Linked DNA regions of Homo sapiens: all the other regions are reported to be linked to region 1. The links are microRNA targets in miRTarBase. Many come from high-throughput screens and were not tested one by one. Region 1 holds a microRNA gene; each other region holds the end of a gene's coding sequence.

Region 1 (4,096 bases):
TCTATTTGCAATAGAATGCCCCACTTTTGACTTTTGCCCCCAAAGAAAGGGAGAATCACAAGGTACAAAAATTAGGACCTGGAAGGGCTTGGGGAAAGGGATTAATGGGGCCCATCTTTAGAGTCCAGGAATAGAAAGGAGATTGTGGGTTGTGGACTTAGGGAAGACTCTCCCAGGGCAGGTAGGTCTTAGCTTTGAACTGAAATACTTGGGGGTAGGGGAGGAAATAGGAAGTCAACATAATGATGCTTATTCTTCTCTAACAGTAGAAAGTGGGGCATCCTGGTGCTCTGGCCTCCTGATCGAGAGACACCAAGGAAGAAAAAAGCTGAATCTTTGAACGCCATTCTGAAATCCCCACCCTTCTTACCATGAAAGAAGTCACTCCCAGAACTTACTTGTGAATTGGGTCCCAGCTCTCTGATCCAGTACCTTCAGTTTAATGCATGGTCTTCATCCTTTACCAAAACTTACCTTTCACTCATTCTTCCTGTACACAAATAACCCATGTTAGGTTAACCCCAGGGTAAACTATGTTGTTAATGAGAAGCTCTACAACTTGCTCAAGACCACACAATGAATCAGTGCAGAACGAACATACAAACCTCTTTCTTGTTCACCACATACACCATTGATACCCTTGATATGGACACAACCATAGTCAATGGGGGCTTGGCATCTGAACTACAAGGATGGTGAATGACCAATGGGTGCAGGGTTCTACCAAACTCTGTTCTTGATCAAAAAATATCCATGCCCTGCTTCCCTGCTCAGAACTCAGAGGAAGGCAGCAGCTGAGGACAAAACCTGATGCCACCACCCTGGAACCATGCAAGGCAGATGAGGGTGGCAGGTTTCCTGGCAGTTCCCTGGGCTTTCTGAGTTCTGAACATTACTCCAGCCTGTTGGTGAGGCCCTTCTCTTACTTGTTCTGTGTTCCAGAGTATATCTTGGAACCTCCACCCTGCATATCAGCACCTGAAAACTGTACTCACCTGTGTACAATGCAGGAAGATTGCGAGAAAGGATTTCAGTGCTGTTCCTCCTTCTGTGGGATAGTCTGTTCATCAGAAACATTTCAAAAGCGCAACAGGTAAGAGATATCTCATATCCAGGTCTGATCCTAGAGCTGCTGGTGGGAGCCCAGCAGAAGAGTCCCTTACCAGCAACTGTGCTGGATCTCTCCTTTTTTTTTTTTTTCCTTGGTGGCCATGTTGCCAACATGCCCCTTCTCTTGACCAAGGATAATTTCCATAAAAGTCCTGATTAGAAAAGCCCTCCTCCCCTCCCAATCACCACATCCCATCACCATATCCGTGAATTTCTGACTCTGCCTCTCTGAACACACCCACAAATGCCTTTATCCACAGACCTTCCCCCGACCCAGAATCCACCCTTATCCCAGGGACACTGTACCTGCAGGTGTAACCAAAATCCCAAAGCAAAATTTGTCCTACACTTTTGCTTGCCCTCCTTTCACAAGACACCATCCTTTGGCCACCAGTGTTCTTGGGCTCTGGAGATCCAGCCCAAAGGAAGTTTTGATTAATTGTCCAGACATTAACACTAGCCGCAAGCCTGCTAAATGGAGTGTGCTCCCAGGGCAGAGAAAGGACATAGGGTGCTGATGAGACATATGGTTTCTAATCCCATCTTGCAACTATGTCTTTCTATGACCTTGAGTAAGACAATTCCCTCTTTTTTACTTTCTTTTTCTCATGAGTAAAATAAGTACTCTTGTTTTTTCCTGCTTTGCAAGGCCCATATGAAATTTCAAAAGACTCACAGTGGAAGACTCAACCAATGAGCCCTTTGAGGGAAGCCTGGCAGTCTTGTTCCCTGCTGTATTCCCTACCATGAGCAGAATACCCAGCATGAGATAATGTGCAGAGTGATTAAGCATGGGCTCAAAGCCAAACACCTGGGCTCAAATCCTGGCTTCTTAGCTAAGTGACCTTAAGTGATCTTAGACAAGCTAATTAACCTCTCTCTGGGCATCAACTTCCTCATCCTTAAGACTGGAACAATAATAGTGAGGTTAAAATAGACAATCCATGTAAGCTTTAAAACATTACTTGCCAACATAATTGCTGTGAATTTTGGGGATTAGGCAACCACTTCTCTTTGAAGAGACTAGCCCTTGCAATTAAATTCCACATCTTTCAATGCTCTACATTGGAATGCAGAAGCATAAATATAACTCTTTGGTGTCATTGAGTTTTTTGAGGTTCTGCCTTCCCTATGGCAAGAGAAATGAGCTTCATGGTCTAATATTAATGGTGGAAGTAATTGAAAGAAAAATATATATCTCTAAAAGTAAAACTTCACTAGTTAATATTTGAAAATATTTTTCTTCTACAGAATCAAACACAAGGGCTCAGAAGTCATCATGCCTGCCAACTGAGGCATATTTCCTAGATCATTTTGTAAGTACAGGGATTTGGTCTCGCCTTCCTCATGTGAGATTCCCAGGGATGCTCACTTTCTTCCTGTAGCCTCACCAGGGGCACTACATTCCCACAAGCTCAGAATGGCCTCTCATTACCTGATTGCCTCCTCCTCCATCATTCCCCTCCAAGGGCTATCTTTGCACTCCCTGGGGGAGGCACGGTGCAGTCCAGCATGAATTCTGCAACACAGAGCAATGTAAGGAACCAAGTCATGGCCCAGGGGGAACCCAGGGCACTCAGATCTGAGGCTTTGTCAAGGAACAAGCTCTTCTAGCCTCCGGGTTGACAGCACCCTGGGCAGGGACTCAAGCTGAGCCCTTCACGCTCTGAGACTTTGGTCTGCTCACTGTACCTCTCTGAGACAGTCACCTCCCTCATGTGAAATATGAAGAAAACATCCATGCCTTGGGGTATTGGGAGGACAACACAAGGCCATGTAGATGGAAGAACTTGGTCTCTGCAAAGGTAGAAACTGCCAGCAACTCACTTACAAGGTCACTCATTCAGGTTCCAGTTTTTTCTCTGAAAAAAGAGGGAGTGGGCCGGGTATGGTGACTCACACCTGTAACCCCAGCACTTTCGGAGGCCAAGGTGGACGGATCACGAGGTCAGGAGTTCAAGACCAGCCTGACCAACAGAGTGAAACCCTGTCTCTACTAAAAATACAAAAATTAGTTGGGTGTGATGGTGCACACCTGGAATCCCAGCTACTCAGGAGGCTGAAGCAGGAGAATTGCTTGAACCCAGGAGGCAGAGGTTGCAGTGAGCCAAGAGTGCACCATTGCACTCCAGCCTGGGCGACAGAGTGAGACTCCGTCTCAAAAAAAAAAAAAGAGGGAGTGGGAATCATCTTTATTATTTTACTGATGCTTCAAGAATGGTGAACAAAATGGAGTCCTGTGGAATTCCACCACCAAAAAAATGATAGTATTCATAAGTTGGTGGATTTCGTTTCAGAGTATTTGAAAGAAAAAGTTAGAAGTTTAGGGTCTTCTAATGGGCCTTCTGATGTCTCCAGATGTTCCAAATTAGAATGGTGGTCTTTCAGCTTAGTCCTTTTATTAACCCTGTACAAAGGAGCGTGATAAATAGTAGCAGGTGGAGGCCAGTGGAGCAGTTTAGACGCATGAGCACTTGCCCAGGCTCCGGTGAGCCCACCATGCTGCGGATGAGCTCCCACTCATGCTTCAAGGTTTCTATTAAATTAAACACTCCATAGAAACTTCACCAGTTCACTCCAGACAGAATTAGTCCCTCTCTTTGTCTTTTGTAGTGTCCTATCTTTGGCCTACCATAACCTAGTGACCCCTGATCCAGGGCAGGAAATACTGTTCAGAAAAATCTATAGACTCTTTTACTACCAGAAACTGACCATATGTGGTTCGAGTTGACCTGAGTGAGGCAGGTCTCTTACATACAGGTTGGCTATCACTGTTTTAATAATCTGAGTTTGATCTATCCAATACTGTAGGCACTGGTCACGAGAGGCTATTTAAATGTTAATTCATATGAATTACAATAAAATAAAATATTCAATCAGTTCCTTAGCCTTATTTTCCATTTCAAGTGTTTAATAACCACATGTGGTTAGTAGCTACCATATTACACATTATAAATACAGAACACAGAAAGTTCTAATGGAAAGC
Region 2 (4,096 bases), not on the chromosome of region 1:
GCCTAGATCCTGAGCTGTGGTTTCAAAGAGGAACAATTTCATTTGAACAGTTCTATGCATAAAGTAGTCTTTTTGAGTAAGAGTTTAGAGGTGACAGTATTATTAACAAAGCCAACAAACAAAACCTTTAATTTTATGCAGTGCTAATAACGATAGCAATCAGGCTGGGCGCAGTGCCTCACGCCTGTAATCCCAGCACTTTGGGAGACCAAGGCCAGCAGATTACTTGAGGTCAGAAGTTTGAGACCAGCCTCTGGCCAACATGGTGAAACCCCATCTCTACTAAAAATACAAAAATTAGCCAGGTGTGGTGGTGGGCGCCTGTAATCCCAGCTGCTTGGAAGGCTGAGGTGGGAGAATCTCTCAAACCCAGGAGGTGGAGGTTGCAGTGAGCCACCAAGATCAGACGATTACACTCCAGCCTGGGTGACAGAGAGAGATTCCGTCCAAAAAAAAAAAAAAAAAAAGCAATCAGAATGTTGGCATCTATACTAATTTGAATGAATTGTGCATCTCTCTGATGTTAGCTTCGTTTAAACAATTTATATCTGCAAAAGTGACTGAAAGATTGCACAGAGTCACTTTTCCTAGTATAGTTTGATGTTGCCTTTTCAAGACTGCCGCCCTTGGATTACTTGGCTTCAATGAATCAAAATATAGATATTGTTAATAAACAAAATACTGACGTTCCTGTATGTGATTTCCCATAGGTGCTGGTAAACAATGCCAAAACTCATGGAGATACAAGAGCATTGGAACTGAATCAGAGATTGTCCTCACAATAACATTGGATTATTTTATAGTAAGGAAGCAAAGAAAAAGCTGTAAGAATGAAGCAATGAATCAAGACTTCTACCCAAAGCAACATTTTTTTAAACTATATTTATTCCTTTTCTAAAGGAATCTAGAGAAGTTGAAGTTTTTAAGTTAGGAATGCAATTTTCTGTTAACTCCAAACCTGATTTTAATCTGAAAAAAAAAAAATTTAATTTGGGAAAACCAGAATGAAAGGAAAACCATTATTGCCTTGGTTGCTTAACATTATTTGTAAACCATTATTTTCTGCATCTTGCATGGTGCACAATAGAATATCTTTTACTGTAATCCCTTACAATAAAGCCTTAATAGCCATTTTCTATGTAATATGCAAAAGTAGATTAGCACAATGCACAATTTTCTTTTGTTAAAAATCAAATTCAAAGATTTAATTCTTGCTATGAATTCTAAAGTTCGGCAAACCAATTCATCATAAAATCCAAATAATCTTGTAACCTATTTATCTAGTGATTCATCTCCAATTCTGTTGAAAAAGCATAATATAAATGTTGATGAGACTAGACTCTAATGGATATGTTTATATAATTCCAAACACTCAGGTGTGTGAATGCATTTAAAAACATTAATGGAAAATAATGCTGATAATATTTAATTGATCATGCAATTCCTTCAATTATGATGGAAAGACTTGAACTTTCTGAAATAAAACAAAAATACAGCATCTTGTTTTCTTTATAGTGTCAATATCAGACATAATTTCTAAATTTCAAATTTTAAAACTTGAAAGCACAGTTATCTATTTTTTTAAGCTCTTTACATATTTGAAAAAACTGTCACTTTGGATTTGTGGTTTTAAAAATATTTTCAGACACTTACATATTTATTGTACAGAAAATATGTGGTTACGCGATTTATGTATGTGGCTTTTCTAAACCAGCAGCATCAGGATGTTACTTTTTAAGATAATATAAATTGACAATATCCTATAGTTAAGTTGTACTTCAGAGGTTAATAATTGAACTGAATTTTCATCTGGTGTTTCCCAAATCTGGCTGAACATTATAATCATTCATACCCATGCAATCAGAATCTTTAAGGATGGGGACAGGCCTAGGACTCTGCATTTTAAAGGTATGCCGAAGAAATCCTAATGTTTATTCAGATTTTCAAACTACTATATTACTCCAATGATGATTCTTCCCTTTATTTCTTCAGCAAGGTTCAACACGTGCCATTCTCTGCTCATTTCTTCCTTATCTTCATAACTGTCAAACTGATTCAGTGATTTTAACAACCTGGTCCACAGACTTAGCCACAGATGCACTTCAAAAGGCTGCCTGCATAGCCCTCATCTCCATGCCGTTTCCTCAGGAAAACACTTCAGCTTTTTCTTCCAGAACGGGTTGGCTCCATCTACCTAAATGCTTTGTATTCAGTTCTTGCCCTCCATCTGTTTTCTGGAGCGTCACTTGCTTCACAAGATTACCCTTTGCTTCGGGACCATAATCAAAGGGTAACCTTTTGACTTTTTTGCCAAATTCTGCCTTCCAGGGACCTCAAACCCAGGTTTTTCTAGACTGGAGGGTTGGAAAAACACCTGAGTTGATACTTTCTCAGGTCATTCTTTTTTGCATTTATGTGCACACATTCTCCCTTAACTTTCGTTGCCTTCTTCTCAAATTGCCACCCAGTTACCGTGAGCCTCAGATAATTTCTGCTCACATAATTTTTATGGAGCTTACTTTGTGCCAGAGCTAGGCTAAGTGTTCTTAACATTGTCATTTAATACTAATTAATAAAGGTGAATGGTGTTAAACAACATGCCTAAAGCAAAGGAAATTCACGAATCAGTGTTATCAGATTCCAGAAACTCTAAAACAGTGGCCAGAATGTCTTTTGGGAGTTTAAAGTTTTTTTTTTTTTTTTTTTTAAGACGGAGTTTCGCTCTTGTTGCTCAGGCTGGAGTGCAATGGTGCAATCTCAGCTCACTGCAATCTCCGCCTTCTGGGTTCAAGTGATTCTCCTGCTTCAGCCTCCTGAGTAGCTAGGATTACAGCCATTCACCACCACACCCAGCTAATTTTTTTGTATTTTTAGTAGAGACAGGGTTTCTCCATGTTGATCAGGCTGGTCTCGAACTCCCGACCTCAGGTGATCCGCCTGCCTTGGCCTCCCAAAGTTCTGGGATTACAGGCGTGAGCCACCGCGCCCAGCTTTAGACATAAGTTTAATTAGAGAAATTAGATTAAAAATTATTTCCTGAAGTACCAGTATTTAATATTCATATTAGTATTTCTTTTGTTATATTTTGTTTGAGAATTGTAGTGAATTTTCTGCTATTTTTATCCATTTTTTATTATTGATTAATTAGATGTTTATACACTAGTTTGGCATCTGATAATTTCCTATGGGAAAAACATGTTTCAGCTTCCAAGTAAACTTTTGGAACATAATCTGTTTGGGGTCACTTGTCATTTTTCATGAAGTGTCCCTTTTAATTTCTGGTCAGGAAAAAACAATCTAAAATCCTGTGCTCTCTTTTCACTTTATGAAAAGGAGCTATTAAACTTCCTTTAGTTTAGAATTCTCTACAGAATAGGATTAGATAGAAATACTCATACATTAAGGGAGTTCAAAGATGTGGTTATTTAAAACAGTATAAAACATTAGGTAAATATTTACTAGTTTGTAATGTATGAATATGAAGGTATACATACTTGGTTGCTGCATAAAAAGTTTGATACCTCCTTTGGGAAAGTTTTATAAGAATACAAAAATGAAGCCTATTTTGGAGTATGAGTGAATGTGGCTTGCAGATCCCTTTTTGTCTTGGCACATTAAAAAATGTAGAAACTTTGTTTTGACAAGGTTGACCCTTGTGTCTCTACAGGTCTTCCTTTCACTCACTTTAGTTGTTAATGGCTAGAAAATGTCTCAGGCTGCCATGTTGCTTGCTGTAAGGTATAGCACTCAGCTGCTGGTTATAAATTGACCCTCAGTTTCCAGGAGAGGTTTTTTTGTTTTGTTTCTATTTTTGTACATTAAAAAGGTACATTTATGTATTATATACAGGTACAATAATTTTTCCACTTGTGTTTTTAAAGACTTTTTATACAGATGAAATGAAAGTCCAAAAACTCCCTCATTTAGAGTATGTGCCTCATTTTTGGTTTAGAAAATGTAGTTAGTCACATAAGATCTATTGTAACTCCAGACCATTCATGGTGTCTAGCTGTCCCTATGCTACGATAGTGGGTTTTTCGTTCTTTTGGATTAGAAACTTTTTGAATAGCAATATTTTAAATCCTGGTATGCCTAA
Region 3 (4,000 bases), not on the chromosome of region 1:
GGTATAATCATAGCTCACTGCAGCCTTGAACTCCTGGGCTCAAGCGATCCTCCCACCTCAGTTTCCCAAGAAACTGGAACTACAGGTGTATGCCACCATGTCCAGCTAATTTTTAAACTTTTTTTGTAGAGACAGGGTCCTACCACATTGCCCAGGCTCATCTCAAATTATCCTCCTGCCTCAGCCTCCCAAAGTGCTGGGATTACAGGCATGAGTCACTATGCCCGGCCCTAGACAGCCCTTTCACAAACATAAACTCAGCAACCATCATAACCATCCTACAAGGGAAATGCTGGCATTATTGCTAGTTTATGGCTAAGGAACCTGAGGCTTAGGGAAGTCATTTGACTTGCTCCGAGTCACACTACAAACAAGACCTGCAATTGTTTGAGTCCCAGAGCATATATGTTCTTATTTACTCTCTTCACATCAGTGCTCACAGTTACCATTATTATTTCTAAACCTTTTTCTTGAAGTGTAGCACATTCGAAAGGGACATTTTCATCCTCCCTTGAGGAGACTGAAGCTTAGGGCGGTTAAATGACTTAAGGCCATACAACCTGGAAGCAGGAGGAGGCCTTGATTCTAGACTCACAAGCTCCAGCTTTCACTCTCTGAAACAAATACAGCCATTTGCCATAGCTCTGTTCTATAAATTAGTCGCTGTTTGAGGCTGTGCACAGTGGCTCATGCCTGTAATCCCAGCACTTTGGGAGGCTGAGGAGGGCGGGTTGCTTGAGGTGAGGAGCTCGAGACGAGCCTGACCAACATGGTGAAACCCCGTCTCTACTAAAAATACAAAAATTAGCCAAGGGTGGTGGCACATGCCTGTAATCCCAGCTACTCAGGAGGCTGAGGCAGGAAGATCACTTGAACCCGGGAGATGGAGGTTGCAGTGAGCCGAGATAGTGCCACTGCACTCCAGCCTGGGCGACAGAGCGAGACTCCCTCTCAAAATATAAATAAATAAATAAATAAATAAATAAATAAATAAATAGTCGCTGTGAACACGGAATTAGCAAATACTGAACCACTGCTCCTAAGGGAAATACAAGGTTAGGCTCCCATGAGCCTCTGGCCACAATATTTTGGTCAACTGATGAATACATAACTTTGTGTTAAATGCGTTTCTGTTTCAAGACGCCTTATGTAATATATAGGGTTGACTCATTAACACTGACTTCACCACCACAAGCACTCTAACTCATCCCTGAGCAGAGCTTATCTGATGTCCATTCCCTCCTTAAGGAACATCCCAGCCTTCTTGCACTTCGCACCAGACAGCACTTCAGCACTGCCCTCAGGGGCCATTCTAAACAATGAAACCAAAAATGTGAAAAATGTGGCACTACACAAGCTGCAAGGAGGACACTTATTTATAGTATGAGGCACAGAGGCAGAGTGTGGCATTGTTCATCCTCAGCTGGGATTGCACGGGTTGGGCGACTCAAACTTTCTGCCCTTGTGTGTGTGTCCATGAATGAGCCAAAGCACGGTGAGTGCCAGCTTTGGGGCTACAGATAAATGTTAGCGAGTGGACGAATTCGCAAATGCAGAATCCGTGAATGATGAGGATCGACTGTACATGCTTGTCGGGGATGCGGATAGTAAATTAGGAAGCCTTTGGGCCCTCAACCGTCTTCTCTGTAGCCTTTGCCCTGGTTGGGAGGGTAGGGCATTTAATGCTGTCCCCTAACCCTCTGGGACTTTGGCAGGAGCTTTTCTCCGCCTCTCCCTCACCACTGCTCTCGCCCCACCGCCCCACCCCCCTGCCACCCTCACACTTGTCCCTGTGCCTGTCACTGACAGAGGGCCAAGTGCTGTCCCAGAGCCAGGCTGCTCCGTGTTTCTGACACCCATGCTAGTGTGGTCCGGTCCTTAATCACCTGAGGTTGGGGGGCTTCAGCCACATTGCAGATCACTTACGGCAAATTAAAATGAAATTCAAGGCTCCCTCCTTCCCCCTAGCCTGGCTTTCGGGCTGCCTCTCTCCCACTCAGGAGCATCCATAGAGCCTGAGCCAAAGAGAAATTTAAAGCCACAGCCGCCACTGCTACCATAAGAAAAATAAGTCAGAAAAGTGTACTTTTCCTTTCCCTTTGCTGCTTTTAAACATTATTTGCATCTTTGGGTTCTTTCCAGGACCCAACAGCAGCTACTCAGAGTCTTCTAAACCAGCAGCCTAGTGGGACCCCTGGCAGTGCAGGGGTTAACACGGTGACCTCCTTAAGCTGCTGAGGTGTCAGGTCTAATTTTATCCTATAACTGGATCTGCCAGTCCTCTTTTTTGCCCAAGTGCTGAGATATATTGGGAAGCCCAGAGTCAGCACTTTTGGTGGCTCAGGAGGCAGCGGGCCCTGATTTTTGCCGAATGCAGAAAGCTAGAGCCTCCTTGCTGCTCGGTCCCAGAGTCAGGCCCTGGGGTGTGAATGGTAACGGCCTGGTTAGTGCTGCACTGGGGCCACCATGCCCCCTCACCTCCTGCTGACTCCCACCCCGAGGTATCCTGTACTGAGCTGCCCCGAGCTGGGCAGCATGAAGGGCCTCGGGGCAGCTCAGTACAGGATGCCCCAGGGAGGATGGAGATCAGAGCCGGCCGCTGAAGCCCCCAGCACCACACACACCTGCTGGAGATGGTCGCACAGCGTCTTCATGTCCCTTCCTCATGGCACGGCACGGCACGGCATGCCCCTGCTCTGTGGCCACACTGCCCCATGCTCACACACATGCACCACAGCCCAGGCCCCGGCCCCAACCCTGACGGTCTCCTGACTTGCAGAAAGCACGTCGTCCACCCCTTAGGCCTGTCGGCTCAGCCCTTTCCTAGAAAGCAAGGGAGCAACGTGTTTCACAAAACACCAAAGAGAAGCTAAGCCTTGGCCTGGTGAGAACTGTAGCTGGGCTCCAGGTTCAAGAGACAGTCCAGTCCTCAGTCTTGGAGCTCTTATGTTGAAGCATCACAGCCCAGACCAACTCTCCTGTCCTCTTCAATGCCCTGTCCACTGCTTTCTAGATCCCCATTGCTTGGTTTCCAAGATAATATTACCACTTAGATTTACAGAGTGCTTTTACTTTTCAAAGAGCATTTTTTTCTTTCTGGCTTTTTTTTTTCTTTTTTTTGTGATGGGGTCTTGCTCTGTTGCCCAGGCTGGTCTTGAACTCCTGGCCTAAAGCAATCCTTTTGCCTCGACCTCACAAAATGCTGGGATTACAGACATGAGCCACTGTGCCCGGCCCAAAAGGCATTCTTACAAAACCGTGCGGTCCCTGATAAGTGGATATTATTAACTCTGTTTCCTTGATGAGGAAGCTGGGGTTCAGAGCCAACTGTTAGCAGGGTTGGGAAGTGAGAATCTCTGCCTCGAGACACAACAACAAGTTGTTTGTCCCACATCATGCTGGGGTGGCTGGGAGGGGATAGGGTGAGACAGGGAGCAGCCACTCCACTGAAGACCAGGCCATGCAGAGGGGATGAGAAGGGCAGCGTTACCTCCCGAGAGGCTACTCCAAGGAGAGCGGCTCGGGGTCACTGTTTCCCCCTTTTCAGGCTGGCCCGCTTCACTATCTGCGCCCCCTTCCTGCCCTCTATCAGGTCCGGCTGTAGGCCACTCCCTCTCAGCTCCACCTGCAGACAGCAGCAGAGACAGAAAGCAGGACAGATCGCAAAGACGGGCAGAACACAGGCAGAAGATCGAAAGGAGGCCACACGGAGGTGGCAGACACACTGCCCACCAGGGAGAAGAGAGACTGGAGAGAGAGCTCATAAAGAGGTGAGTGGAGGGAGGTGTCATGCAGACGGCCCGGCAGAGCAAGGCAGCAGTGATGGCGCTGGGTCCCCCAGGGCCGCGGGCGCCTCAGTACCTTGGAGTGTTTCATAAAGTAATCAATATCGACCTCCAGCTCACTGGGATCCTCCAGGGGCCCCTCTACAGTCACCTCCTCGTGCTCCTGGGCGGCATCGGCGCTGGACAAGTCTATCTGTCGAACCACCTTGCGAATG
Region 4 (4,096 bases), not on the chromosome of region 1:
AAAATATGAAAATTAGCCAGACGTGGTGGTGGGCACCTGTAATCCCAGCTACTCAGGAGGCTGAGGCAGAAGAATCGCTTGAACCAGGGAGGCGGAGCTTGCAGTGAGCTGACATTGCGCCACTGCATTCCAGCCTTGGCGAGAGAGCCAGAGTCTGTCTTGAAAAAAAAAGAAAGAAAGAAAAAAGAAACTATTTTTATTATGACATTTATTTGTATTACAAGGAACCAATGTTCTAAGGGACAATCTCTGATAAATGCTGCTGTGTGGCAAATAAATGCTGCAGTTCTGAAGGTAGAAAGTTGAGCAGTAACTGTAACCCGTTTTAAGTGTACCCAAGGAAATGAATAAGAGACACATCTCAAAGGTTCTTTTTGTTTCTTTATAGAATGAATATTAAGTACTTTTCATGAGTTTACCCAAGAGTAATAATAATTCTAGATTTTAGCCCTGTGAGGCCAATTAAAGATAATTTTGATTATTAATGTTTCCTTCTCATTTTTTTTTTAAATAACAAAGCATCATAAAGAAATCCCAGTCAAAAAAAAATGCTGCTGCCTGGAAAACATAGTGAAACCCTGTCTCCATCAAAAAATATTTTAAAATTAGCTAGGTGTGGGGGCATGTGCCTGTAGTCTCAGCTACTCAGGAGGCTGAGGTGGCAGGATCACTTGAGCCCAGGAGGCAGAGGTTGCAGTGAGCTGAGATGGTGCCACTGCATTCTAGCCTGAACAAGAGTGAGACCCTGTCTCAAAACAAAAACGAAAAAAAAAAAAACAAAAAACCATGCTTATACAGAAATGGGAAAATGCTACAAAGATATTGCCATAGTACTGAAAGCACACAGCATAACAATCATTAATGCTTTGAAGCATTTTAAAAACAGTAAGGGGAATGTCAACATAAAAAAGAACAACTACGAAAAGGTGAGAAATGATCAAGTTATCTCTGGTCTCTTAAAAGAAGGAGTTCTCAGAACTGGTCTGAAGGGGGTCTTCTCCAAATGACAGAGTTGATTAGCTCCATTCTCTTCAGCCCCCTGACATGATGGCATCTAGTGTGAATATGGGAGCTCACCAGGTTCTCCCAAGGACAGGGTGGCCCTGCAACAGCTACGCCTGTCCTAGAGACCATACCCACGCAATCTCCTTCATTCCCTCTAGGCCAGCTTCATCAGAAATCATGTTTTTAATGGCACAGTTATATGTCAAAAAGGAGGAGAAAAGGAGCCCCTAGTCCACCAAAACAAGTGTAAAAAGGTCGCAGGAGGGGAGGAGGATTGACACTGATGTTCTTAATATCTGAGTTGGCTGAAATTTGTAATAAGTTTTTCATGAGAAACCATATTATAATGGATGAAGAGCTTTTCTAATTCAGCTCTATCATTAATAAATAATTATAAAGACATTACTATGAAAATATACAATCATTTATAACATTATTTTCCTAAAAAATAAAAAAGCATTTTGTATTCTAAATACTGTACACTAAGTATAATAATTAACATATTGGAAAATGACAGACAAGCTGCAGCGGTTTCCTAAAGCCTTAGGATTCCCTCTAAGGTTTATTCATGGGCCCTCTAAGATGATAGCATGGCCTTTTTTTGGTTCAATATTTTCACAACTTGTTCTGCCTATTTTAATTCTTATAACAATTCCTAATTTAAACATTGTTAATCAGCAAATGTCCTAAGTCTTGATTCAGAAATCTATGGCATAGGTAGAATGAAAAAATAAATACCTTAAATAGAAATACTTTTTCCCTAACTCGTTTCTTTTTTCTGTTTTGCAACATAAAAATATACATTTCAAAACATTTAAAGATATCTGGGAAACTGCAACAGAAAAGGCTTGTTCCCATGTGAGTCTGAAGGGGCCAGTTACGGTGCAGCAAGGCGAGCCTGTGGCTGCAGGCACACAACACAAACTCCACAAACTCTATGATACTGTCAGAAGGAAGTTCAACCTATTCTACAGACTCACACTGACCTGAAAGGACAAAATTAAGAAAAAGATATGCCTCAAAGAGCAAAATAAAGAAAGATAAAAAAACTGAGCACCCTTTACAATGTTGTAATAAAATATTTATTAATTTCTCTTTATAAAAATTTGGGAAAAGATAAAAGGCAAAACTACACATAGAAAAAGGTCAGTGATAAGTGTTTATACAGTCAGTTTTTTCTGATGTGTGAAAAAAACTGATAAAAAAATCCTTTGAGGTAATATGAAAGTTCATGATTCTCATTCCATCAACATCACTGTTTGCTACCATAGCTTCTTAGTTGTCCAGCTAGATTTTATGCTATGAACTGATGCATGAGATTTCATAAAACATTAATACCTCTTTTTTATACTACAGTTCTTTCACTGGTATACCATAAAGTAGTATTACAAATAAATTATGACTATACTTCATCATAAATAGAAATTAAGAAAGTACACTTTGCCAAACTGATTTCTGACTTTTAAATTGTATTTATTCACTCCCCACCAATTTGAAAAATCTTGTAAATTACAGAGGGTTTCCTAGTCATTAACATGAATTAGTAATGCTATAACTTAATTCAAAAGCAATTACTTCTTAAAAATAGGGCGCATACCAGGAAAGCTTAGCATCAGCCAAAGCTACTAGCACACCACGGGCAAAAGGCCAACTCTGCAGGGATATGTAAAGGTCATTTTATGGATAATCCATATAAAAACTGCTCTCAAGATATTTTGCCCATTAGAATTTGTTTACAAATGGAAATCTAATTTGATGATTTTAGGCCTTTGTGCTAGAATCTCACAACCAGAAAGAATAACACCTTTAATATGAATTCTTATGATATTGTCAGAAAGTTTAACAGGAGTTATTTTAACTCCTGTTAAAATAATAGATGACAGTAAAAAGAAATTCAAAGGGAAAGAAACAATATACGAAAAAGCTATGGGGTAACAGATGTTGAGCCTACAATTAAAAACTATTTATTTTAAATGTTTTCCTATGTATAAGACAGAAATACCAAGCACTTTCTACTTTTGTGTTGTCAGAAATCCCAGGAAAATCCAGAAATGAAAAAAAAAAAGTGAAGGATAGACATGCATCACATGCATCTAGCTGGTTGACTGAGAAAACCTGAGAAATAGCACTAAAAAGGATAAGATAGCATTATTGCATACTAAAGAAATATGACAAATACCTGCAAACACTTTTTTTATTGAAGCTCTTGAAATAATACACCCTGACTGTCTAACAAAACCAGTGCTGAAAGCTGATAAATATTGACGGTGGCACCTGGTGATTTCCTTCCAGCTCAGCCACAGCAATGACTCTGGATGCCATCAGCACTGCCCCCACAGGCATATGCTCTCCTCTGGGTATGTGGGAAGTTGTGCGACTGGGGACCAGATTGCTGCAGGTGCTCTCAACATCACTGGGAAGAGCTGCCAGCCAAAGGAAAAAAATGAAAAAGGAGAATGCCTTCCTATGCTTTTCCACAGATATAATCACTATTTCATGCCTGCAAAACCTAGAAAAAAAAAGAAGCTCCTTTGTTCCAGATAACCTGTCAATTCGGAATTCCAAATACCATTTTCCTTACAGGAGTAGAATATACTATATATCCATATCCATCTTCTTATTGAAGCCTTGATGAGATTTTAGCTTAAAAGGAGAATCAGGATCCAGATGCTGAATGGTGCTTCAGCAACCTCACATGAAGTGACTTTTGGGTTTGCCACATAGTCTGAGTTTCTTCGTTGTGAGCAGCTGGGCCAGGCCATTGAGGAACACCAAAAAGATGGTCATGGACATGACAATCACATAGTGGCTGATGCTGCAAAAGGAGAAAAAGATGTTACAGGCAGAGAGAACACAGGTGAGGAAAATCATGAGATTCCTCTGAATGGTTTTAAATGGACAGATGAAAATCTCCACTTTCAGGAGCTGGAGTGGGTGTTCTTTACCTTATTCCTCCTGCTAAGTACAGCTGTCTGTTGGTATCTGGTTCCAGGACCTTCAAGTACAGCTGTCCATGGACTGGTTCCAGGACCTTCCACGAATACCCAAATCTTTGAATGCTCAAGTCCCTGATATAAAATGGTGCCGTATT
Region 5 (4,096 bases), not on the chromosome of region 1:
ATCAATAATGTGACCAGTGGAATCATTCATCATCATAGTGATCCTCTCCATCATTTTTGAAGAGTATTTTTCCTCAGTTTGTGCATGATTTATTTAACCCTTTTCAAAATGTTTTTGTTAGCCAGGCATGGTGGCATGTGCCTGTAATCCCAGGTACTTGGGATTCTGAGGCAGGAGAATCATTTGAACCTGGGAGGTGGAGGCTGCAGTGGAGGCTGCACCAGTGGAGGCTGCACCACTACACTCCCGCCTGGGCAACAGAGCGAGACTCCATCTCAAAAAAAAAATAAAAATAAAAAAATAAAGTTTTTGAGATGAGGTAGGTTTCATTGTTTTAGGATTACAAAGAATGCTGCAGCCACCTTTGTTGTACACATATCTGGTCATTGTGGAAATGTCTACACCGCAGATATTTCTATAGTGTAGGGAAGTTGATGCACTATCGCTACATTATAGGCTTTACATGATGCTTCTAATTTGAGTACATTCTGCAAATGTATCTTTCACGGGAGCCGTACCAAATAATATTCCAATAGCAATATTTATAGGAGGAAAAATGTGCAGAAGTGCAATTGAGCTTCGTGCCTCTCCATGGGGTCCATGTTCATAAAATGGTGGCATTAGCAATCATCTGAGAGTGGAGTTTGTGGCCCTCTGACATCAAAAGCTGAAGCAGAGGACATGAAAACCCTCACTGTGCATCCTCTCTAGTCTGGCCAGAATCATTCCTAGGTCGGTGGTCTCTTATCAGGAGGGAATGCTGCTTGCTTGTTTTGTCAAAATCACAAAACTGAGGGAAAGCATCAGGCCGTTGGTTGGTAACAGTGGTGAAGCAAGTCTTTCCAAAGGGCTGGTTTGTTGTTAACCCTTAGGGAAAAAAAAAGCCTTTTTTTTTTTTTTTTGAGACGGAGTCTCTCTCTGTCCCCCAGGCTGGAGTGCAGTGGCGCGATCTCGGCTCACTGCAAGCTCCGCCTCCCGGGTTCAGGCCATTCTCCTGCCTCAGCCTCCCGAGTAGCTGGGACTACAGGCGCCCGCCACCACGCCCGGCTAATTTTTTTTATTTTTAGTAGAGATGGGGTTTTACCGTGTTAGCCAGGATGGTCTCGATTTCCTGACCTCGTGATCCGCCCGCCTTGGCCTCGCAAAGTGCTGGGATTACAGGCATAAGCCACCGCGCCCGGCCAAAAAAGCCTAATTCTTACCAGCTGGTGCCGTGCAGTACCAGGCTCTTGGTGTCCCAAACAAAGACACCAAGAGCCTGGAACTGCACCAAAAACCAAAACCAAGGTAGGGGCAAGATGATAATCACAGAATGTCAACGGTATATGTTTAGGTTCAAATACTATTATGAGAAGGGGCAGGTAAAGGAGGTAGGAAAAAGAAAACACATCATGTAATTGACTGTTGTATGGAAATATTTGATGCTGAAAGTTATAATTTAAAACTATAAACCAAATATTAGAAGTGTGTCTAGTTCAAAGGGAGGAAAACCATCAAAAACATTTTTAGTGCAATATTTAACATGAGCTATACAACCCTTCCTAAATGCCAAAGGCACACACAGACACACACGCAGACACACAGACACACACACACTCACACTCACGAAGAATACAAATGACTAGAACCAAGAAATGTAAATACATTCTGCTACGTATGGTAAACATAGCCTACAATGTGGAAGAGATTAGAAAATAAACATGGAAATGAAATGTTTTTATTAATTCGCATCAGTACCCACCAAAACCAATCAGCATAATCAAATATTATAACACTGAATGTAAAAAACAATCCAGAAGTCCAGAGTGATAGGCAAAAGGTTTTAATTGTATAGATTAAAATTAACTTTGGACAAAAATTAAAACTCAGGCAGAGAATGTTTTCTTCTTTTTGCAACAGCAGACACTAGTAAAAACAAAGGCACAGTAAAAATTGAGACCCAAAATTTGCAGTGTAGAGATATGAATATAATAATAGACACAGGCAGGGAGGATTAATAAATGATAAAATGTTTAGAGGATGATCATTAGAATACAGGATATTTATACTCTTGAAAACCGCTTTCCCAAGTACTTCATTATAAGTAAGGTGTCTCTAAAAGGGACAGATCTCCTAGACCCCTCCTTAACCAAGTAACCAGTCCTGATATCATAATGGTGATGGACAAACTAGACCTTCTCTGCCCGCAGATGGGCTGAGGTTGGAAACTCACAGCATTGTCTCTGCAGTGTTCCCGGCAAAATGTTTAGGCTGAATTTAATCATGAAGACATTTTCAGACAACTTCAGAATGTAGATCATTGAGCCAGACAGCTGACCTGTCCTCTATAAACAAGTCCATGTCACCACCATCCATGACAACAACAAAAAGATGAGGAAATATTTGGGGTTCAAAATAACTAAAGAAATGCAGCTACATTATCTTTTTACTTTTTTTGAACCCAAAATATCTCTTCTCCTTTTTGTTGTGTGATTTGTGGTGATATGGACTATGTGAAGGAGACAGGTCAGTTGTCCTGCTCAGTGTTCTACATTCTGCAGTTGTCTGGTGATTACCTCCTATGAAACTCAGGCTAAGTGTTTTCTGCAAGAACATGGCATTGTTCATATTCTGCACCGGCAGAGTCCTGGGTGACATGCTGTCTCCTGCCAGCGGCTCCTGACTCCTGTTCTCTACAGGATGGAATTGAGAGGAGCAGGGCTAAGGCCTCCCAATGCTGTTTGTCCATCTAGCTGTGGTCTTCCTAAGTACTGACACCAATTGGAGGCTGAAGGACTGTGGCTTCTCTAACCAAAGGAGCCTAGCGGGTTAACAATTGTCAAGAGCAGTTGGTGGTTCTGAAATACAATCCTCAGCCAAGGATCCCTCCTGTGTTACAGATGGATCAGCTAAAACAAGCCAACACTGAAGACACAAAGAATGAGGTTAGGTTCATTGAAACCAGGGTAACACCTTTGGATGAGCTAAACACAAAGATGACAATGACCTTGAGCAGGTATAGAAGCTCAGAGACATGCCTGCAAAATGAAATCCCTGAGGAATTTTGTAGCTACCCAGAGATACGTGGTTCAAATTAAAATGTCTGACTGATCACTCCCGGCATGTTCTGCACAGTTATGTGAACGTGTCACACCTAACATGGGTCCATTGTCTTCAGATTGAGCACAGGTTGCCAATGGCATGGTTTGAGAATAGGAATAGAGCCATGCTCACTGACCCATCCTATGTCTGGGCTTCCAAATGGAACTGTACTTTCATTCAAATCTTCTCGTGCCTATAGGTCCTGCCTGCAGGAATGACATCTCTCGGCTTAGTAAGAGCTGCTTATTGTGGGAATATGACTCCCATCTGGAACACCAGGTGGAGACTTGTCACCGTCAAAGTAAAAAACCTATTGTCCACGTAAAGGGCGAAGCTGATATGCTCTTCCTCAAATGAGTAAAACACACTTCTGTAGTGCTGGAATGAGTCAGGTTGTTCAAAGTACATTGACGGAGTCGAATAACATCTATCCAGTGAGTCCTGTAAGACTTCAGGCTCTTCCACTTCCATCAGCACGCCGTAGAGCCTGGAAAAGGAGACAAAACTAAAGAAGCAGCCAGGGAAAATCAGACACCACAGAGCCCCACTAGATTTCAGAAGTAATATAAGGAAGTGGTTAGAAAAGAAAAAGGATAGATTCATTAATGAGGTAAAAAAAAAAAATTTATTGCCTTTATGTTGGGATAGAACAGGGCCAGGTAGAAAACAATGAAAGAGAAAGACAGAGAGAGAGAGACAGAGACAGAGACAGAGAGAAAGTGAGCTAGTGAATTGCCCAGGTGACATACTGGTAAGGGAGTAAAAGGACACTCTGAGTTAGTGCCCTCATGACACACAGCAAACTGTGATCACAAAAAGAGTGAGCTCAATAGTTTTCCATAAAATATGCTCAAAATTTGATGCAGTGGCCATCAGAGTACAGCTTTTGAAGTATGGTCAACCTATGGTACGTTAGTAAATGATAAGGGGAGGAAGAAATGGAAACCTAAACATCTACTGCAATGAAAACCAACAGCAATGACAGTAGGAGTAATTCAGCCTTCGTTGAAAACAT
Region 6 (4,096 bases), not on the chromosome of region 1:
TATTAAACTGATTGAAGAAGTTTGGAAAATAATTGAACTTACATATGTACCTTTGCCTTTTAAATTTTTTATTTTTTAAAATTTTCTTTCTCTAGTGTTCTTTTGAAGATGACAACATCCGTTCCTTATTAAAACCTTTAGAACTGGAACTACAAAAAACAGTGCATACATACTGTGGAAAAATTTACAAAATATTTATCAAACAACTAGCAAAAAGTGTAAGAGATCGTTATGCCAGATCACCAAAGGAAAAGTGATTCTTGGTGACTGCTTAATCAAATGGATGAAAACAAAGAATCAGAAGATAAGTGTGAAGGAATCGTCTTGGATGAAGTATTCAGGAAGGAATTACTCATCTCCAGAATAATTTTTTTTTTCCTAAAGAAGTTAAGTAAGCAGTATTTTCAGGTAATGAAGAATAAGTTAAAATCTTGGGCCTCAACATTGAACATTTTTTATCTCTGATGTTTTGTAATGTTACTTGCTATCATTCCAGTATTGATGAAAATACTATTGAATGGGTTTAACCTGCAGACTTCTGTTGACTCATACTCTCAAGAGTGGTAGGGGTGTGTAGATGGAGAAAATGTACCTCAAACAGTGCCAACACTCAAGACTGTGAGTAGAGCAATAATTTTATGTCAGCACTAACCTCACTTTAAAAGTGTGAGAAAAAAGTTTGTTTACAGGAGCAGAAACAGGTCTGTTGTTTCTGAAGAAATGTGATGTAACTGATGTAACCATTGACAATCTATGTGTGCCTTTATACATTTCATCTCTGTTTTAAAATATTTTTATGACAATCATGTTTAAAATTATTTTTAGATTACAAGTAAGCTGCATGTTAAAAATTGAGCTGTGTAAGGTAGAGGAAAAATAGTGAAAACTTTGGGATTTTAATCTGTGTGTGCGTGTTTGTGTGTGAGAGAGAGTGAGAAATGTAGTGTTTCATTTTGTATGCATTAAACTGTCTTGCCAAAACTCAGATCTAAGATTGTTAAATAGATATTTGGGGAATTTTTTTTTAATCACTTTAAATGAAAAACGTCAGCTTTACTGGGCATTCTGGAAGCAAAATATATTATGCTGATGGTAAAGTGAGAACCTTAAGAGTATACTCATGATGGTGGAAAGTGTGATGGACCAAAATGCATAAGCTATATACTTCCTGTGAGTAGTAATTTTAGTTACAATGGAGTAGAAAAATATGGTCCATTTAAACTTGTCTTCTACCTCATAACGGCCTTGCAAGATACTTTTGAAGAAGCAAATGTCTAGAGCCTTACTTTAAGTAAGTTAAACAACTTAAGTGGATGATTTGGAATAAGATTGTTACATCCAGCTGTAGAAAATGTGGTTTTAATTGGGTTGATGTGCATTTTTGAATATCACCTAAGACAGTTAATTTTTTTAAATCTTGAGAAATTACTTCTTTGGCATTCTTGACCTGTTAGCTAATATAACTATAGATTCTGAATACTTAGCATATACTATGCTGGGGCACATATCTTATTTTACCAACAATATGATTATCTATATGGTTATCTTCTTTTTCTCCCTGATATTTTAATGCTCAAGTAGAAAATGGAAAATCATGAAGGAAAAATACAACCTGTGAAAATTGTGGCAGTTAGCTTTGTGAAGACACAGTGACCTCTGTGGAGACATGGAATATGCAGAAAGAGATGGTTAGTACAGTTGTTCTGTCGTCTGCAGTTCAGTCAGGGACAAATTGAGAGAGGAAAGTTTAAGCAGGGTGCATTAGAAGTTGATAACCAGTCCAGCATTCTTAGAACAGATGGGTTTAGAGAACACGAGTTGTAGTTCCTTGGCAGAATGCCATGGTGAATATAAGAAACTGTGAAATTGAGCTTACTGAGTAGAAAATGAGAATACTAAAAATGTGAAGTTTGGAGGGTATGTATTAGATCATTTCTAATGGTCCTCAAATAATGATCATTGCCTGCCTGACTATGTAAGATTCTTGTTGGGAGCTTAAGAATAGATTCCTGAGCTAGGCCTTTGGAGACTCTGGCATGCTGTGTCTAGGAGGGAGTCTGTAAAACAATTTTTAATGAAGAAATTTAAAAATTACACAAAACTAGAATAGTGCATTGGTACTCAACATCCAGATCTGACACTTATCACTATCTTACCATGTTTGCTTCATTTGTCATTTTTTTGTTTGCTTAAGTATCTTAAAATCCCATACATTGTGTTATTTCACTGCTGTGAACACTTTGGGTAGATACCACGATATCACACCTAACAGAGGCAGCAGCAGTCCTTCGGCTTCATCTCATAGCCAGTCCTTAAGCAAATTTCCCTGATTATCTCAAAAATCATCTTCTAGTTGGTTTGTTAGAATCAACAGAATATAAGTCACATGATGATTTCGTTTTTAACAATCACCTCAGATGACTTTGATGTTAGCTACTTTGAGAACCACTGGAAATTATTTTGCCAACTTGAAAGTTCAAGTTAGGATACCACAATTCTTGGCACGTTTGGTGGATTATAAATGTGATTTTGAAATATTAGAGGAAGCATTTGGGGTTAATGACAGGATATGAATTTATATTAGTAAGTTTGATAAGATAAAATTTCCTCAGTGAACGGAGAATCTCAGCCCCATGGGCTCTAATTGATTGGGACTTGTGTAGAGCGTGGTCACAGTTTAATCCAACTGGACTGTATGCTGTGGTCTCACTCATGTTGTGGCTTATTTACACTGTCACACACACTACATTGTGGATCAGTTGGAAGGTTCTTCATCTGGTTTATTTAGACCTGACCTAATTGATCATTTTACCATAAATTGAATTATAGTGAAAACTGTCTTTTGGGTACTGTTTCTACCTAAAATTAAAGGTATCACAAAATATGTATAATAATTTTTAAATGAATTTTCTGAATTTATCTTTAGACAAGGTAATTCTTTTGAATTCTAAAGAAATGCAGTTCTTGGAGTTGATGAGAGGTTAAATTATAGATGGACAACTTAGAGAACGTATTCCATCTTCATATAAATGGTCTTTCATAAAACATAGTGTATCTATGCAGTTTATATAAACTACATGATTTATTATTTGAGTCTATGTATTCTGACCTCAGAACTATCTCTGGGCTACAGTATTACCAAAGTGGGATGCCTTTAAAATGCAGTCAAACTTCATTTGTATGAAGTAGAAAAGAACTTGGGAAACCTTTAAAAATATATATTGTGATTTATGCTTTAAGAAAATGCATACTTTTTTCTAATGAAGAGTAGTTCATAATATATAAGGGTTTTAAGGCCCTGAAATAACATTAGTGCTTACTCATTGCTCTCTCATCTTGCCTCCAGTCAGATGTTATTGGTATAGTGAAAAGAAGACCAGATTTTGAACTAGATCTGGATTCTCTTTTTAGTAACTCAGGCATGTTATTTACCCTTCTCTGTGCCTTAGGTTTTTAAGTACAATCAGTGTACCCTTCAAACCTCACAAGATGAAACTCAGAAGAGATAATGGATTTGGAAGCATTTTGCGTGGCTTATATTATGCCACGCCAGTGTTACTGTTGAAGTTCTGTTTTGTTCGTTGTTTTCTGTACAGAGCGTTCAGTTTACTCAGGCTGAATGTTTTCTGACATATATCTCCAGTATGAATTTGTTTATGTAAGGAAGAGTTTTTCAGGAAGAGAAAGTAGAGAAGAAAAGAATGATGTAACTAAATCAAAAAAGAAGGAAAAGAGAGGAAGTGAGAAAAGGGGTGAGGAAAGAGAAAGGAGTAAGAATGGGGATGGCAAAGGGCAGAGTAAGAGAAAAGATGGAATGAGTGTATGGAAAATTGAGAAGTAGAGATGGAGAGAAATGGTGTGGAAACATTTACTTTTTGAGTTGTAGCCCTCACACTACATCAGTTTGCTTGCCTGGGCTCTCTGGGGTCAGGAAAGGTGCTGACTTCCATGGAATGGGGCAGCAGGGCCTGCTGTATTTGGTTTGTTAGTACTAGAGTTGTTTCCCAATCACCCTACTCACTGATCATTTAGTGCCAATTCAACATTTTATGTCTTTTTTTTTTAGTGGATCCCAGTTTGTGAGCTAGGACCTGTG
Region 7 (4,000 bases), not on the chromosome of region 1:
CTCATTCATTCAGCTAACATTATCAGTGGCCTCACGTACAGGCTCTGTACTAAGCAATGGGATTGCCCTCTGTGCCCATGGAGAACTCACCGTTTAAGTCTGTTTGGGACAGTGGTAGGAAGAGAGGTTTAGTAGGAGCAAGGGACACACTTAACAAGCGAATACATCACCTGCTTTTAATGTCTGATGTCTTTTCTTTAGGACGTCAGAGCCCAGGCCACCATTCCACTTCTGGGCTATGTGGTGGATGAAATGCCAAGGAGCGCAGACCTGCCACACAGTTTCAAACTGACCCAGTCTAAGTCCGTGCACAGCTTTGCTGCAGACAGTGAGGAACTGAAGCAGAAGTGGCTGAAAGTCATCCTTTTAGCTGTCACAGGTGAGACACCAGGTGGTCCAAATGAGCATCCAGCCACCTTGGATGATCATCCTGAACCTAAGAAAAAATCAGAATGCTGAACTCCTCCAGGACCAGCCATGGTGTGGAGGTCTCAGGACTTACAGCTCAAGACATTCCCAGCTCTTCTTACACATCTGCTAGCACTTTATGTTGAAAAATATAGGCCCATAAATGCATCTTTTGAGGACTATTTTCCTATGTTTATGTACTCTTAGTGAAATTAGTGTGCAGAGTCATTCTACCGATAAAGTTTTGAAATAATGTGAAAACTGGAGCATTTTTTGAGCTATTCCTTGAATATGTGCTTTTTTGTCTTGAAGAAATGGTGTATCAATTGATTCTGTCACCGTCAGGTTAGAATGAGCACTTCCATTTAAGAAATCCTTTCATGTCTTCTTCTCTTTCACATGTAGGACCTGGAACAGTTTGAAAGATATACCTCCATGTTGCCAAAATAGATCCATGGTGAAAAATACAGGGACAGTTGAGGCTATTGTATTAACTTATTTAATTTAGTTTATAAATCTCTAGCTGCATAAATGATGTCTGTTCTTTTAAAACAAAAGAAAAAGGACAAATTGTTGGTGTTCAGATTTCCGATTTATAAAGAAAAGATAACTTGTTTTTGTAGAAATACTCCTAAGAATGTCTTAAGTATATAGCAATTATGTATATATAGTATTAAATATATATATTATACATGCTTTTAGGTTCACATTCATCTCTAATTTATTTTTTAAATATAAAGCATGGTTTATCGTGGAATTGAGCAATGTTCTAAACTGAAGAAATGTTTTGGTGATTTATGTTTTGCTGATTGGCATTTGAGGGTATTGATATTTTTATAATAAGCGGTAATTTATGTGGCATGGGATATATTTGTGAATTCCAACAGTACTTTTAAAGTACCATTTTTTGTTTCTGTGCCTATTTAAAACAGTGCCTCTCTTAGAAGGTGCTATTAATATAAGATGAGGGTTCAGTTAATGCTTCAGTCTTGATTATTCTAAGATTAAAGTGCATTTTGGTCACTGGGACAGTCAAAGTCATACAGGTTATTTTACCGTTTACAATCCTATAATTATTGCAGTAGTTAACATCAGCATGTACAAACATTTTCACCAAAACCCAAACTTTATGAGACACCTGACCTTTTACAGAACTAGGATATGTGGAAACCACATTTATCGTAATGTTTTTCTTTTCCGTAAGATAATCGAGCATGGTTAAATAAGGTCTCTATATAATGAACACTTAAGATAACTGTATGGGCCTTTTCCTTTGTCGGAATGAAACAAAATCCACATGTGATAACCTATGTTTGGGGTGGGGGCTGGTCACATGATTCCTTGTCATGAAGGCTGCTCTTCACTCTTTTGTACTTGTGATTAAAATCTCACACTAAGTTTACTATTTAACTTAATCCTTTTTCTCAAATTAAACCTTTTTTTATACTGTCATACCCCAAACATTGTCACTTTTTAATGTACCAGTCTGCTAGAAATCTACAAGAATGATCCCACTATCTTTAGTATGTAAGGATTACACCTTAGATATAGAATAGAATTTGAGACTGCCACACATTTATTCAGGCCTTGTTACTTTAAGAAATATCTTATTTTTTCCACCCCAAAGGAGCAAGTGAACCAATTATTGCTGACATAATAGGTTCCCTTCCTCCATAAAAGGATTATCAGCCATGATCATTAACATTAAACCAAATAGATGGAGCCAAAAAGAGATAAAAGTAGCTTCTTAGGCCCTATTAAATCAGGGAAAGACTAGAAGAAAATTTACATTGCTTCTCTTTTTTAATGGCCAGCGGGGTATGTGTGTGATGTATACTCAGAGTGGTTTTTTGGAAAATTAAACTGTAGCTATAGATGATGCTTTGGTTTTCTTAATCTCAAGAAAAGAGAAGCAATGGAAATACAGAATGATTAACTGGGGAAGAGGACTTTTGTAAGTGTGACTAGAACAATGGTAATGTATGGGCCAATGGGAAGATTTATAAGTCAGATTATTTTTGAAAACTATTTTTAAAAGCAAGAAGACTACACTTTCCCTACCAAAACAGAAGTAACATGGACACACTTAAGTTTTGGCTCAATAAATATCAATGTTATTTAACTTAGATCATTGAAAGAATACTCATGTAAAGATAATGTTTATTATCATGCTCTTAACAGTCATTATCTTTAATTTTTTAAATGAGAAGCATTAATACTAGAAGAGAATTTCTGGTTATCCGGTCACCATATTCACTTTCCACCCCACATTCTTCAGCTAAACGCAAAGAGAAGCAGTGAAACAGCCTTACCCGCTTCTCTCTTATTAAAGAATCACTGATGTTTTTACTCAATGAAAGGTAAAGTAATACCCTTAGCCATTTATTAAACAATTCAACCAAGAGACCTCAAAGTGTGATTGATGATAAGAATAATCAATGCCTTTTCCCTTCCAACATACTTGAGCAGTCATGACAACCTAAAAATATCATTGGTTGCTTTCCCATTAAAACCAACGTTCCCTGTGGGTCTTAATTCTTTATTTTCACTCATTTGGTGCTTTCCAAGTCATCTTTTCTTTAAAGTGCCCTTCCTCCAAACTTTAAAAAGTACTTCCTTGACAAAATTTCTATTCATTATAAAACATTTCAATATTTTAAGCTTAAATTTTGCTTTTGCTGAAAGCCTACCATTTGGCGTGTTAAGTATGAAATATAGTGCAGACTTTTATCTTGGTTTTAAGTGGGGCTCAATAAAAAACACCAGCCACTTTTGTAATAATGGCATCACAGTGTCATCATGTATGCAAGCAATAAAACTCTTTAGGGTATGGTTTTATACTGAAAATTTAATATGAAGGCCCCTTCCCACAAGAATATAGATAATTATTAACTTTCTAGATGTGATACGGTAATTCGAATTGCAGAGTATAAGGAAGGGAAATGGGAAGGGGCATCATTCCTTGGATTTTAAATAACTATCAAGAACATTTTTACTTTAACAAAGAAAATGGATAGAAAAAGCACATTTTGTTTTCCCTGAAGTTTAATTTGACATCAGGTTTGTGTACTTATCTTCACTAGGTGACTTAACTTACCCCAATTTTTTTAAAAATTATTAAACTTTTTACAGAAACTAACCTTTTAAATGTACCCTTTCCCCATATATATATACGCACACGTTTGGATTTTTTTTTTTTAAGAACACTTGTTCTAGTTATAAATATATAAAGAAAACGATAAAGTTTGTGGTACTGCAGGGTTGTTAAAGATTCTTTGATGCCTTCTAAAAACTTTTGTCAAAAATACTTTTGAGTTCACAATTCTGTTTTACTTTTCCTTGTCCTTACTTTTTGGAAACAGGGTGGTTGCTTTTATTTGTTTTCTGGTTATATTCAAAGCCTTAAGTTCTTAATCTGAGCATATTGTCTGTGATAAATTTCTGATGATCTTTCTGGACTAGATACAACCTGAGTAGCAAGCACCAACCGGAGCAAGTAAACTTCTAGGGAACAAGCGTCTTGGGTTTTATAGGTATCTTTGCTATAATGCAGAATAGATTAATGAAGATTTCCTATATCATATGATATTTG

Evidence for each region. The annotated mature microRNA hsa-miR-3617-5p reads AAAGACAUAGUUGCAAGAUGGG and lies in region 1 at 1,649-1,670, opposite strand. An mRNA with a match to its seed (bases 2 to 7 or 8) in the 3' UTR can be bound and repressed. Matches are read on the target gene's strand: a 7mer-m8 pairs with bases 2 to 8, a 7mer-A1 pairs with bases 2 to 7 and ends in A, and an 8mer does both.
Region 2: the mRNA of SKIC3 is a reported target of hsa-miR-3617-5p. The part of its 3' UTR that is shown has no 7-base or 8-base seed match.
Region 3: miRTarBase lists ANK1 as a target of hsa-miR-3617-5p. The part of its 3' UTR that is shown has no 7-base or 8-base seed match.
Region 4: miRTarBase lists PIGN as a target of hsa-miR-3617-5p. Seed matches in the 3' UTR shown: 7mer-A1 at 2,994-3,000 and 7mer-m8 at 1,402-1,408.
Region 5: miRTarBase lists NBPF15 as a target of hsa-miR-3617-5p. Seed matches in the 3' UTR shown: 7mer-m8 at 2,266-2,272.
Region 6: miRTarBase lists GXYLT1 as a target of hsa-miR-3617-5p. Seed matches in the 3' UTR shown: 7mer-m8 at 4,050-4,056.
Region 7: the mRNA of FGD4 is a reported target of hsa-miR-3617-5p. Seed matches in the 3' UTR shown: 7mer-m8 at 789-795 and 8mer at 1,046-1,053.

What each region holds. Positions count from the first base shown.
Region 1 is chr20:45,703,502-45,707,597 of GRCh38, forward strand. MIR3617 (microRNA 3617) reads right to left here and starts at 1,679; the gene lies at 1,601-1,679. It overlaps WFDC10B (WAP four-disulfide core domain 10B), which reads right to left and starts at 1,518. Exons shown (of 4, transcript NM_172006.2): 1 at 1,417-1,518; 2 at 996-1,060. WFDC13 (WAP four-disulfide core domain 13) reads left to right here. Exons shown (of 4, transcript NM_172005.2): 2 at 943-1,093; 3 at 2,362-2,426. The coding sequence ends at 2,404.
Region 2 is chr5:95,461,296-95,465,391 of GRCh38, reverse strand. SKIC3 (SKI3 subunit of superkiller complex) reads left to right here. Exons shown (of 43, transcript NM_014639.4): 43 at 711-1,498. The coding sequence ends at 785. Among named protein-coding and RNA genes, the nearest start is that of FAM81B, 72 kb to the right of the region's middle.
Region 3 is chr8:41,657,940-41,661,939 of GRCh38, forward strand. ANK1 (ankyrin 1) reads right to left here. Exons shown (of 43, transcript NM_000037.4): 41 at 3,937-4,000; 42 at 3,491-3,625. The coding sequence ends at 3,527. It overlaps MIR486-1 (microRNA 486-1), which reads right to left and starts at 2,569; the gene lies at 2,502-2,569. MIR486-2 (microRNA 486-2) reads left to right here and starts at 2,505; the gene lies at 2,505-2,568.
Region 4 is chr18:62,042,160-62,046,255 of GRCh38, forward strand. PIGN (phosphatidylinositol glycan anchor biosynthesis class N) reads right to left here. Exons shown (of 31, transcript NM_176787.5): 31 at 1-3,820. The coding sequence ends at 3,697. Among named protein-coding and RNA genes, the nearest start is that of PIGN, 140 kb to the right of the region's middle.
Region 5 is chr1:144,419,689-144,423,784 of GRCh38, forward strand. It overlaps NBPF15 (NBPF member 15), which reads right to left. Exons shown (of 22, transcript NM_001385408.1): 22 at 1,702-3,568. The coding sequence ends at 3,325. Among named protein-coding and RNA genes, the nearest start is that of TRN-GTT3-1, 2.5 kb to the left of the region's middle.
Region 6 is chr12:42,083,947-42,088,042 of GRCh38, reverse strand. GXYLT1 (glucoside xylosyltransferase 1) reads left to right here. Exons shown (of 8, transcript NM_173601.2): 8 at 96-4,096. The coding sequence ends at 257. It also overlaps the pseudogene LOC101929308. Among named protein-coding and RNA genes, the nearest start is that of GXYLT1, 59 kb to the left of the region's middle.
Region 7 is chr12:32,640,075-32,644,074 of GRCh38, forward strand. FGD4 (FYVE, RhoGEF and PH domain containing 4) reads left to right here. Exons shown (of 17, transcript NM_001370298.3): 17 at 202-4,000. The coding sequence ends at 459. Among named protein-coding and RNA genes, the nearest start is that of DNM1L, 37 kb to the right of the region's middle.